Linked DNA regions of Homo sapiens: region 2 is linked to region 1. The links come from fine-mapping of genetic effects on gene expression. A gene starts in region 1. The other region holds a variant in brackets. All regions are shown on one strand. Distances are from middle to middle.

What was found.
Region 2: its variant is fine-mapped to the expression of EVPL in sun-exposed skin (GTEx, PIP above 0.99).

What each region holds. Positions count from the first base shown.
Region 1 is chr17:76,024,255-76,029,765 of GRCh38, reverse strand. It overlaps EVPL (envoplakin), which reads left to right and starts at 2,460. Exons shown (of 22, transcript NM_001988.4): 1 at 2,460-2,665. The coding sequence starts at 2,568. RefSeq lists an enhancer at 1,991-2,878.
Region 2 is chr17:75,988,938-75,993,937 of GRCh38, reverse strand. TEN1 (TEN1 subunit of CST complex) reads right to left here. Exons shown (of 4, transcript NM_001113324.3): 3 at 2,315-2,472. It overlaps TEN1-CDK3 (TEN1-CDK3 readthrough (NMD candidate)), which reads right to left. Exons shown (of 10, transcript NR_037709.1): 3 at 2,315-2,472. Among named protein-coding and RNA genes, the nearest start is that of CDK3, 9.4 kb to the left of the region's middle. The variant GAGCCC/C (reference allele first, on the strand shown) is at 2,232.

The sequences.
Region 1 (5,511 bases):
AGGACTCAGGGTGTTCCTGCCTGCCGCCTGGCAGCCCTTATCAGAGGAGCGGGGCCTGATTTGATCCAGCATGAGAAGATCACGCCAGGAAGTCAGCTCTTGTTTTTCTTGCAGTAAATCAGTTAGCCCTTAATCTCCGGGGCGTGTGAGGGCCCCCTGCAGTGCTCATTTCCTTCCTGGAGGGCTTCTGAAGAGGGGAGGAAGCTCGAGTGTTCCAGACCTCAGACTCGCTGCCCTCCGCCCAGGGCACCTCCCCCTGCACAGCTCAGGGGCCTCACCCGGCTGCTCTCTGTCTGGAGTCTGGACACCTCTCCCCAGGGCCCCACTTCCAATGACTGCCACCTCCCAGGGAGGGGCCAAGCTCAAAGGTGAAGCAGGCGGGCTCAGTGGCTGATGCCTGTAATCCCAGCACTTTGGGAGGCTGAGGTGGGCGAATCACCTGAGGTCAGGAGTTCGAGACCAGCCTGGCCAACGTGGTGAAACCCTGTCTCTACTAAAAATACAAAAAATTAGTCGCGCGTGGTGGCGGGCGCCTGTAATCCCAGCTACTCGGGAGGCTGAGACAGGAGAATCACTTGAACCTGGGAGGCAGGGGTTGCAGTGAGCCGAGATGGCGCCACTGCACTCCAGCCTGGGAGACAGAGCGAGACTCAGTCTCAAAAAAAAAAGAAAGAAAAGAAAAAGGCGAGTCAGGGAGGCCAGGGGTGAGGCTGGCGTTGGCCCCCGTAGTCATTCACACAAACGGCTCCTTTCTGAAGACAGCTGATTGCAGGTGTGCAATGAGTGGCTAGAAGACAAGTGTCACCAGGAATAAAGTGGGAGCAGGCTGGGGCAGAGGCTGAGTGGCCAGTCATCCCTGGTGCCATCTCACTCAAGACACGGGCTGGGAGCCAAGGACACTGGAGACCTCTTTGTTTCCTCATTGCTGTCAGGGGCTGCCACTGCCCTCCCCACCCCTACTGCCCCTGTCAGCTCCTCCACCTCTAGGAATGGGGGTGTCCTGCATCCCCTCTCCACGGCCGAGTTCAGGGACTTCCCATGAAATTCAGCCAAAAAGGGCGCAGGACTTTTCTATCCCATGGGGGCCTGAGGCCAGTATCAGGCGTCGGTCCCTGGTCTCCCCCGTCTGCTGGGATCTTTCTCTCCTGCCAGGCTGTGCTTTGTCCTCAGCGAGGCCTGCCAGGATGTCCAGGTGATGTCACCCAGTCAGTCTGTTCCATCCCCTGGCTCCCCCTCAAGCCCTCCTTCCACTAAAACCACGGGGGTTTCAGGAATGACCTGGAAAGCGACGCCACCCCGCAGAAGGGGCCTGTTACGCTGGGCCAGTGAAATGAGCGCCTGGAAAGGGGGGTGCCATCGCCTCTTTCTTGAAGACGCTCAGGGCCACCACAGAAGGAAAAGGCAGCAGCCCTGGTACCCAGTGTGAGGAAAAGACCAATAAGCTGGCATCACTGTCTGCCACTCAATCTGACTTCATAAAAGCCACCAGGGGCCATTTCTGGGTGGGGGAAGAGGCAGGTAGGAAAAGCCAAGTGCATCAGGCTCCCGGGCCTCAGCCAGAGCCCAGGCTTACTGGCGCCTGAAGCCAGCCCTGGTGCTGCTGCACTGTGCACACTTTATAAAATGGGGCCAGGCGTGGTGGCTCATGCCTGTGATCCCAGCATTTTGGGAGGCCGAGGCGGGTGGATCACTTGAGGTCAGGAGTTCGAGACCAGCCTGGCCAACATGGTGAAGCCCCTTCTCTGCTAAAAATACAAAAATTTTCTGGGCGTGGTGACGGGCACCTGTAATCCCAGCTACTCAGGAGGCTGAGGCAGGAGAATCGCTTGAACCCGGGAGGTAGAGGTTGCAGTGAGCCGAGATCATGCCATTGCACTCCAGCCTGGGTGACAGAGCGAGACTTTGTCTCTTAAAAAAAAAAAAAATGGACCTTGTGCCAGTTGTCTGGAGTGAACGTCCCCTGACTGCCCCATCATGTCAGTGGAGAACAGAGAGTCAGGCCCTGGGCTGGCAGGACACCCCCTCCTCTCCTGGGGGATTGAGAGCTGTGGGTGGGGGCCTGCCTGGCAGCAGGTCCTCTGAGCTGGCTGGAGGTGTTTATTAATCCTGAGCTCCGGGGCTGGGGCCTCTCCGCTGAGCCTGCACCTGCATGTGCACGTCTGTCTCCAGCCCTGTCTGTCCTGGCCCAACTCCTTCCCTATCTGGGTGTGATCGCCGCTGCGCTCCCCTAGGCATGTGGGTGTAACAAGTCCAAACCTTCTGTGGGAGTCGGGCAGGCTCGGCCCCGCCCTCAGGGCTGTGCCCTTTCCTCCCAGACTGGTTGTGCAGGAGGAGGCATGAGTGTGGCCGTTGTGGGTGCATGCGCGTCAGGCCTGGGACCCGGCCGCCCGCCCGCTGCCTCACCTGCAAGGAGGGGCCTCCCAGAAACTCCCTTCCCCAGTGCCCAGCCGCCCCACCTCGCCAGACTTAGCTGACCAGCCAGTGAGGACGCCCGCTGCCTCCCACCTGCCCTCCTGCCGTCTTTCGCCAGCCAAGCCCAGCCTGAGCCAGCACTTGCCTTTACGACCATGTTCAAGGGGCTGAGCAAAGGCTCCCAGGGGAAGGGGTCCCCCAAGGGCTCCCCCGCCAAGGGGTCCCCCAAAGGCTCCCCCAGCAGGCACAGCCGGTAAGTGGGACTGGGGGATGGGGAGCCGGGGAACTGGGGTGGGGGTGGTGCCAGGCCCAGGTCCTTGAGCCACCTGGCGGCGGCGGCGGCCCAGAGCCCAGGACCAGCCCCGTGCTGGCATTTGGTGTCCTGAGGCCAAAGGGCCCAGGGATGGACTCTCTCCCTGCCTTGGGAGCCGCAGGCCCAGGCCGAACTTCAGCCCTGGCAGGAGGCAGGGGATGACCTGGGGCTCCCTACATCCTCTAAGGGGGCCTGAGGGCCACGGATTGAGGCCGCTTCGCGGGAGAAGTGCTGGACAGGAGCCTGCACGGAGGCCCTCCTCTGCCAGAGGCTGGGAGACAGGAGAGCCTGGGAGACAGGAGAGCCTGGGAGACAGGAGAGCCTGGCTGCCTGACTGCAGCTCTGCCCCAAGGCTCTACTTGGCTGGGATGACCCCTGGAGCCTGGGTACAGGGCATGAGGACTGAGGGGACGGGGTGGGATCCCTGGGGTAGGGATGCAGGGGCTGTGCTGCCTCCTGCCTAAGCCACAGCCCTCCCCAGAGTTCTCACCCAGGGCCTTGTTGTATTGAAGAGTTAGGGGTTCATGGCCGGGCGCCGTGGCTCACGCCTATAATCCCCGAACTTCAGGAGGCCAATGCGGGAGGATTCCTTGAGCCCAGGAGCTCGAGACCAGCCTGGACAACATAGGGAGATCTTGTTTCTGTAAAAAAATAAAAATAAAAAATAGCCAGGCATGGTGGCTCGTGCCTATTGCTTGAGCCCAGGAGTTTGAGGCTGCAGTGAGCCATGATCACACCCCTGCGCTCCCGCCTGGGTGACAGACTGAGACTCTGTCTTAAAAAAAAAAAAAAAAAAAATCCTGGCGCAATACCTCACGCCTGCAATCCTACAACTTTGGGAGGCCGAGGCGGGTAGATCACTTGAGCCCGGGAGTTCGAGACCAGCCTGGGCAACATGATGAAATCCCGTCTCTACAAAAAATATACAAAAATTATCTGGATGTAGTGGCGCATGCCTGTAGTCAGAGCTACTTGGGAGGCTGAGGTGAGAGGATCACTTGAGCCCGGGAAGTCGAGGCTGCAGTGAGCCGTGATCACTCCACTGCCCTCTAGCCTGGGTGACAGAGCAAGACCCTGTCTGTTAAAACAAAATAGAGCTGGGGCTTCCTTTTCCAGTGGGTGTGGTGCAGGGGGCACTGGGCCTCCCTTGGACCACCCGGCTCTCTGGAGCCCAGCCTCAGCAATCTGTGGATGGATTGGGCGGTGTTCTTCCCACTCACTGGCTTCAGCTCGTCTGCAGAGGAGGCAGCAGCCCGCCTGGGTCCAGGGTGTCGAGATGACCTCAGGGATGAAAGGCTGGTGTGGGAGTGGGGGTGCCCATTACCCCGATAGGGATCAAGGCACCAACAGACACCGAGGCTGGGTGTCTGGGCGGACGGGAAAGACAGTGGTTAAGACTCTCAGCTAACACTCTCGCTGAGTGACCTGTCCTCCCTGGGGCACCTGAGCCCCACCCAGGGTGGAGTGTGCAGCTCCCGGTGGGAGCAGCCATCCCAGGAGGCGGGACCTGAGGAGGGGCGCCCAGGGCCCAGCACCTGCAGCTCCCACTGTCCAGGCAGGCTCCCCAGCAGTGCGCTCCTGGCCTGGGGCAGCTCCGTCCTCAGGGCCCTGTTGGCTCTCCCCTCACGTGCGATCCACTCGTTTGACATGAACTTACTGAGCACTTACTGTATGCCAGGACTGTTCTAGGCACTGGAGATGTCACTGTAGACAGAACCAACAAGCCCCTGCCTTCAAGGCACTAGCCCTCTAATGGGATAAAAACTAACACGTGCTGGGTGCCGACCCTGCACCAGGCCTGCACTGGACGTTTCAGATGGATAAATTCAATTAATGCTCACAATAGCCCTAAGGCATAGATATTTTTATTAAAATCCCGCTTTACAAGTGAGGAACCTCAGGCACAGAGAGGTTGAGTAACTTGACCAAGGTCAAGTCCATCATCTTTCTGATGGAGAAAGATGAAACCAGGGTGTCTTGGCCACAGAGTTCTTCCAGACTGCTGTGCCTTCACCAGCACTGTCCCTTTGCCTGGGGGGGCCCATCCTTTGACCCAGTTCAAGGCTTCTCCTGCCCCAGCATAATGATCCCCCATAAGGCACTGTGCTCATAAGGCTTGGACCAATCTGCCCTCTTTTAGGTCTGCTTGACCTTGTGACCTCCGCACAGTGAGTGCATGCACACAGCAGGTGCTCTATGGAGGCTGCAGGGCGAATGCACAGAAAAAGCCCTGGGGTGGAAGCAAGGTTTCCCCTCCACCCCTGACCATGTGACTCAGAGCAAGTCAGAGCCCAATCTGGGCTTTGAACCCTCAACTCTGGAGAATGTTAGGGTGCCCAGTAGTCTCTTGCGCCTGCCCCACCTCCCCGGCTCCGACAGTGTGAGGCTCCTCTAGATGGCTACTGAAGCCAGCATGCTGGCAAGGCTCCCTGGGGTGGAGGAGGTATAGGGGAACACAGGGCTGGAGTGCGAGGAGGTGGGGATGGGGGACATGCTGCTGCCTCCCTGCCCCAGCCAGCCCAACTACCCCTCCCAGGGCCCAGCCAGGCTGGCTCAGGTGCTAGTGGCTGAGCCGGTGATTCACTGGCTCGGGGAGGGAAGTGGCAGGTAGCTAGGTGGGGTCGGGAACTCACTGCCAGCACAGCTGGCTAAGGCTGGGACACCGAGGCCGCCTGCCCCCTCCCCAGCACCACACAAACCTGAGACCCTCACCTTTTGACCCCTCATGTGGCGGGGCAGTGCTAACACCCCCAACCAGGACTAGCTCACAGAGCCTTCTGCAGAGA
Region 2 (5,000 bases), 36 kb after region 1:
AACCTCCTCCGCCTCCCGGGTTCAAGCGATTCTCCTGCCTCAGCCTCCTGAGTAGCTGGGACTACAGGCGTGTGCCACCACGCCCGGCTAACTTTTTGTATTTTTAGTAGAGACGGGGTTTCGCCATGTTAGCCAGGATGGTCTCAATCTCCTGACCTCGAGATCCGCCCGCCTCGGCCTCCCAAAGTGCTGGGATTACAGGCGTGAGCCACGGCGCCCAGCCCAGGTTCAATTTTTTTGGCAAGAACCCAACAGAGGTGTTGCTATGTGTGTCTTCCTCATGACTCACATCGGAGGTACCTGATGTTTGCCCTTCTGATTTTTATCACGTCGACATTGATCAGGCCAGCCTAGGCACTGCTGGCGGGTCCCTCCATCACAATGATCTCATCAAGATGTTTCCTAATGATTTTGGCCACTAGCGAGGACTGTTGCCTGGATTTTTTATTTTGTCAGGGCTTTTAAAGTGATGACTTTGAATTTACGGATTTCTCCTGCGTTCATTCGCTGTGACTCTTCTCTAAAGAACTTTCCAGGCCAGGCGCGGTAGCTCACGCTTGTAATCCCAACACTTTGGGAGGCCGAGGCGGGCAGATCACAAGGTCAAGAGATCGAGACCATCCTGGCCAACATGGTGAAACCCCCATCTCTACTAAAAATACAAAAATTAGCCAGGCGTGGTGGCGCATGCCTGTAGTCCCAGCTACTCGGAAGGCTGAGGCAGGAGAATCGCTTGAACCCGGGAGGCGGAGGTTGCAGTGAGCTGAGATCATGCCACTACACTCCAGCCTGGCGAGAGCGACACTCCGTCTCAAAAAAAAAAAAAAAAGAAATAACTTTCCTTCATCAACCATTTGGTTTCCACTACAGGCAATCCATACAGAAATGGCAGGATAGAGCCTGGTGCCAAGATCGCGCCACTGCACTCAGCCTGGACAGCAGACCAAGACTCTGTCTCGAGACAAAAAAAAAAAAAAACCAGCAGTAAGAATCAGAAGCAGGCAGGGCTACTCGGGAGGCTGAGACAGGAGAATCGCTTGATCCAGGGAGCTGGAGGTTGCAGTGGGCTGAGATCGCGCCACTGCACTCCAGCCTGGTGACAGAGCAAGGCACTGTCTAAAAAAAAAAAAAAAAACGGTGGCTCACGCCTGTAATCCCAGCACTTTGGGAGGCCGAGGCGGGTGGATCACAAGGTCAGGAGATCAAGACCATCCTGGCTAATACGGTGAAACCCCGTCTCTACTAAAAATACAAAAAATTAGCCAGGCGTGGTGGCGGGCGCCCATAGTCCCAGCTACTTGGGAGGCTGAGGCAGGAGAATGGCGTGAACCCGGGAGGCGGAGCTTGCAGTGAGCCGAGATCGCGCCACTGCACTCCAGCCTGGGCGACAGAGCAAGACTCCGTCTCAAAAAATAAAAAGGAATCAGAAGTAAGGCTGAGTTTGGTGCTGCACACCTGTAATCCCAGCATTTTGGGAGGCCAAGGCACGCAGATCCCTCATCCCAAAATAATGACACCTTGTCTCCACAGAAAATTTTAAAATTAGCCAGGTGTGGTGGTGCACGCCTGTGGTCCCAGCTACTCAGGAGGCTGAGGTGGGAGCCTCATGAGCCCAGGAGATGGAGGTTGCAGTGAGCTGTGATCATACCACTGCACTCCAGCCTGGGTAACAGAGAGAGATCTTGTCTCAAAAAAACTAAAAAAAAAAAATTTTTAAGACTCAGATTAAAGGCTGACAGGCAAATTCAAAAAGATCTAAGCAAGCTGCCTCACATCAGGCCTGGTGTGTTGTAGGCCTTGAGAAATTAGTGGTTTCTCTCTCCTCGTTCTCACTTCCCCATGGGGGATTGTCTCTTCACTGTACCTGTCTTTTTTTTTTTTTTTTTTTTTTGAGACGGAGTCTCACTCTGTCATCTAGGCTGGAGTGCAGTGGAACGATCTTGGCTCACTGCAACCTGTACCTCCCTGGTGCAAGTGATTCTCCTGCCTCAGTCTCCTGAGTAGCTGGGACTACAGGCACATGCCACCACGCCCAGCTAAGTTTTGTACTTTTAGTAGGGATGGGGTTTCGCCATGTTGGCTAGGCTGGTCTCGAACTCCTGACCAGCCACCCTGTCTTTGAGTTGGCACCATGAGGCCAGTCCACTCTGAGTTGAATCCTCAAGAGTGTTGAACTTGTGGGCTAATTTGGAAGAAACATTAACCCTGATGAGACATTGCTGTTGGGTCAC[GAGCCC/C]ATTTCTCACTGACTGCCCCGAAGACTGCCCCAGCTCAGGCCCCAGGATGAGAAAGGGGATCTGAGGCTGCAGCTCACCCTGCTGATGCTGGAGCTCCCCGAGGACGATGTACAGGGAGCCCACCTGGGCGTGGAAGGGCTCCACCAACTTGGTACAGACAAGAACCTGGTGCTGATCGGATCCGTGCTGAGCCATCAGTGTTACTCTGGACTGAATCATGTCATAGAGGCACAACCTGGAAGGCAGAAGAAATGCAATAATTTCCATCCATACGTAGAATCACCACCACGCTCAAAAGGTTTGCATGGCCAAGAAATCTATAGAAAAGTGTTCAGCCTCAGTCTCATCACAGAAATGCAAATTGCAGCAACAAACCAGAAAAAAATGTTTCAGTCTACACTGTAGAATATGAAGGAATTCCTTTTAATTTTCATCTCCTTGCCTTCAATTTTCTTAATGGCATATTTTGATAAGCAGAAGCTTTTAATTTTGTTGATGATCAGTTTATTCATTTTTTTCTTTTTCTTTTTTCTTTTTTTTTTTTTTTTTTTGAGATGGAGTCTCGCTTTGTTGCCCAGGCTGGAGTGCAATGGAGCAATCTCGGCTCACTGCAACCTCCGCCTCCTGGGTTCAAGCAATTCTTGTGCCTCAGCCTCCCGAGTAGCTGGGATTACAGGTGCCTGCCACCAGGCCTGGCTAATTTTTGTATTTTTAGTAGAGAAGGGGTTTTACCATATTGTCCAGGCTGGTCTCCAACTCCTGACCTCAAGGGATCCACCCACCTCAGCCTCCCAAAGTACTGGGATTACAGGCATGAGCCACCACACCTGATCATTTTTTTCTTTTATGACTTTTGCTTTCTATGTCTTGTCTAAGAAATCTTTTTCTTCCTTTCTTTTTTTTTTTTTTCTGTATCCCAGGCTGCAGCCTTGACCTTCCAGGCTGCTCAAGCAATCCTCCCATCTCAGCCTCCTGAGTAGCTGGGACTATAGGTACTTGCCATCACACGTGGCTAATATTTTAATTTTTTGTACAGACAGGGTTTTGCTATGTTGTCCACACTGGTCTCGAACTCCTGGGCTCACGTGATCCACCTGCCTCAGCCTCCCAAAGTGCTGGGATTACACTCATGAGCCACTGTGCCTGGCCATCTTTTTTTTTTCAATATGGGCTACAAATGCTATAAATAGAAAAAAAAAAAAGAAATCTTTGCCTACTCAAAGTTGTAAAGATATTCTGCTGTTTACTTGAGACATTTCAGTCTTAGCTTGTAATCTATGACACAGTGTAAATTTTTTTTTGTATGTTGTGAAGTAAAGATCAAGATGTTTTCCCCTACCATAAGAATATCTAGCTGGGCGTGGTGGCTCATGCTGGTAATCCCAGCACTTTGGGAGGCCAAGGCAGATGGATCACTTGAGTCCAAGAGTTTGAGACCAACCTGGGCAACATGTTGAAACCCTGTCTCTACTAAAAATATAAAAAAAATTAGCCAGGCATGGTGGCACGCAGCTGTGGTCCCAGATACTTGGGAGGCCAAGACGGGAGGATCACTGGAGCCCAAGAGGCAGAGGCTGCAGTGAGCCGAGATCGTACCACTGCACTCCAGTCTGGGCAACAGAGCAAGACTCCGTCTCAAAAAAAAAAAAATCTAGGTTGGGCATGGTGGCTCACATCTGTAATCCCAGCACTTTGGGAGGCTGAGGCAAGAGGATTGCTTGAGCCCAGGTGTTAGAGACCAGCCTGGGCAATACAGCGAGATGCCGTCTCTATAATTTTTTTTTTTTTTTAATTAGCCAGGTACAGTGGTGCACGCCTGTGGTCTCAGCTACTTGGGAGGCTGAGGGGTCAAGGCTGTTGTGAGCCATGATCATGTCACTTGCACTTCAGCCTGGGCGACACAGTGTCAATATCCAGTAGTTCCACTTGTTGAAAGGACTATGCTTTCCCTACTGAATTATCTTGATGTCTTTATTGAAAATCAATAAAGCCAGGCACGATGGCTCACGCCTGTAATCCCAGCACTTTGGTAGGCTGAGGCAGACAGATCACAAGGTCAAGAGATGGAGACCATCCTGGCCAACATGGTGAAATCCCATCTCTACTTAAAAAAATACAAAAATTAGCTGGGTGTGGTGGGGCACGCCTGTAATCCCACCTACTTGGGAGGCTGAGACAGGAGAATCGCTTGAACCAGGGAGTTGGAGGTTGCAGTGAGCCAAGCTCACGCCACTGCACTCCAGCCTGGCGACAGAGCAAGACTCCATCTCAATTTAAAAAAACAAAAAAGGCCAGGTGCGGTGGCTCACATCTGTAATCCCAGCACTTTGGGAGGCCTAGGCAGGCAGATCACGAGGTCAGGAGATCGAGACCATCCTGGCTAACACGGTGAAACCCCATCTCTACAAAAACAAAAAAAAAACAAAAAAAAAAATTAGCCGGGCGTGGTGGCAGGTGCCTGTAGTCCCAGCTACTTGGGAGGCTGAGGCAGGAGAATGGCGTGAACCTGGGAGGCAGAACTTGCAGTGAGCTGAGATCGCGCCACTGCACTCCAGCCTGGGCAACAGAGCAAGGCTCTGTCTCAAAAAAAGAAAAAAAGAAAAGAAAATCAATAAAGAATTGGCTAAGTAGGCCGGGCGTGGTGGCTCACGCCTGTAATCCCAGCACTTTGGGGGGCCGAGGCGGGTGGATTACAAGGTCAGGAGTTCGAGACCAGCCTGGCCAAGATGGTGAAACACCGTTTCTACTAAAAAATAAAAAAAA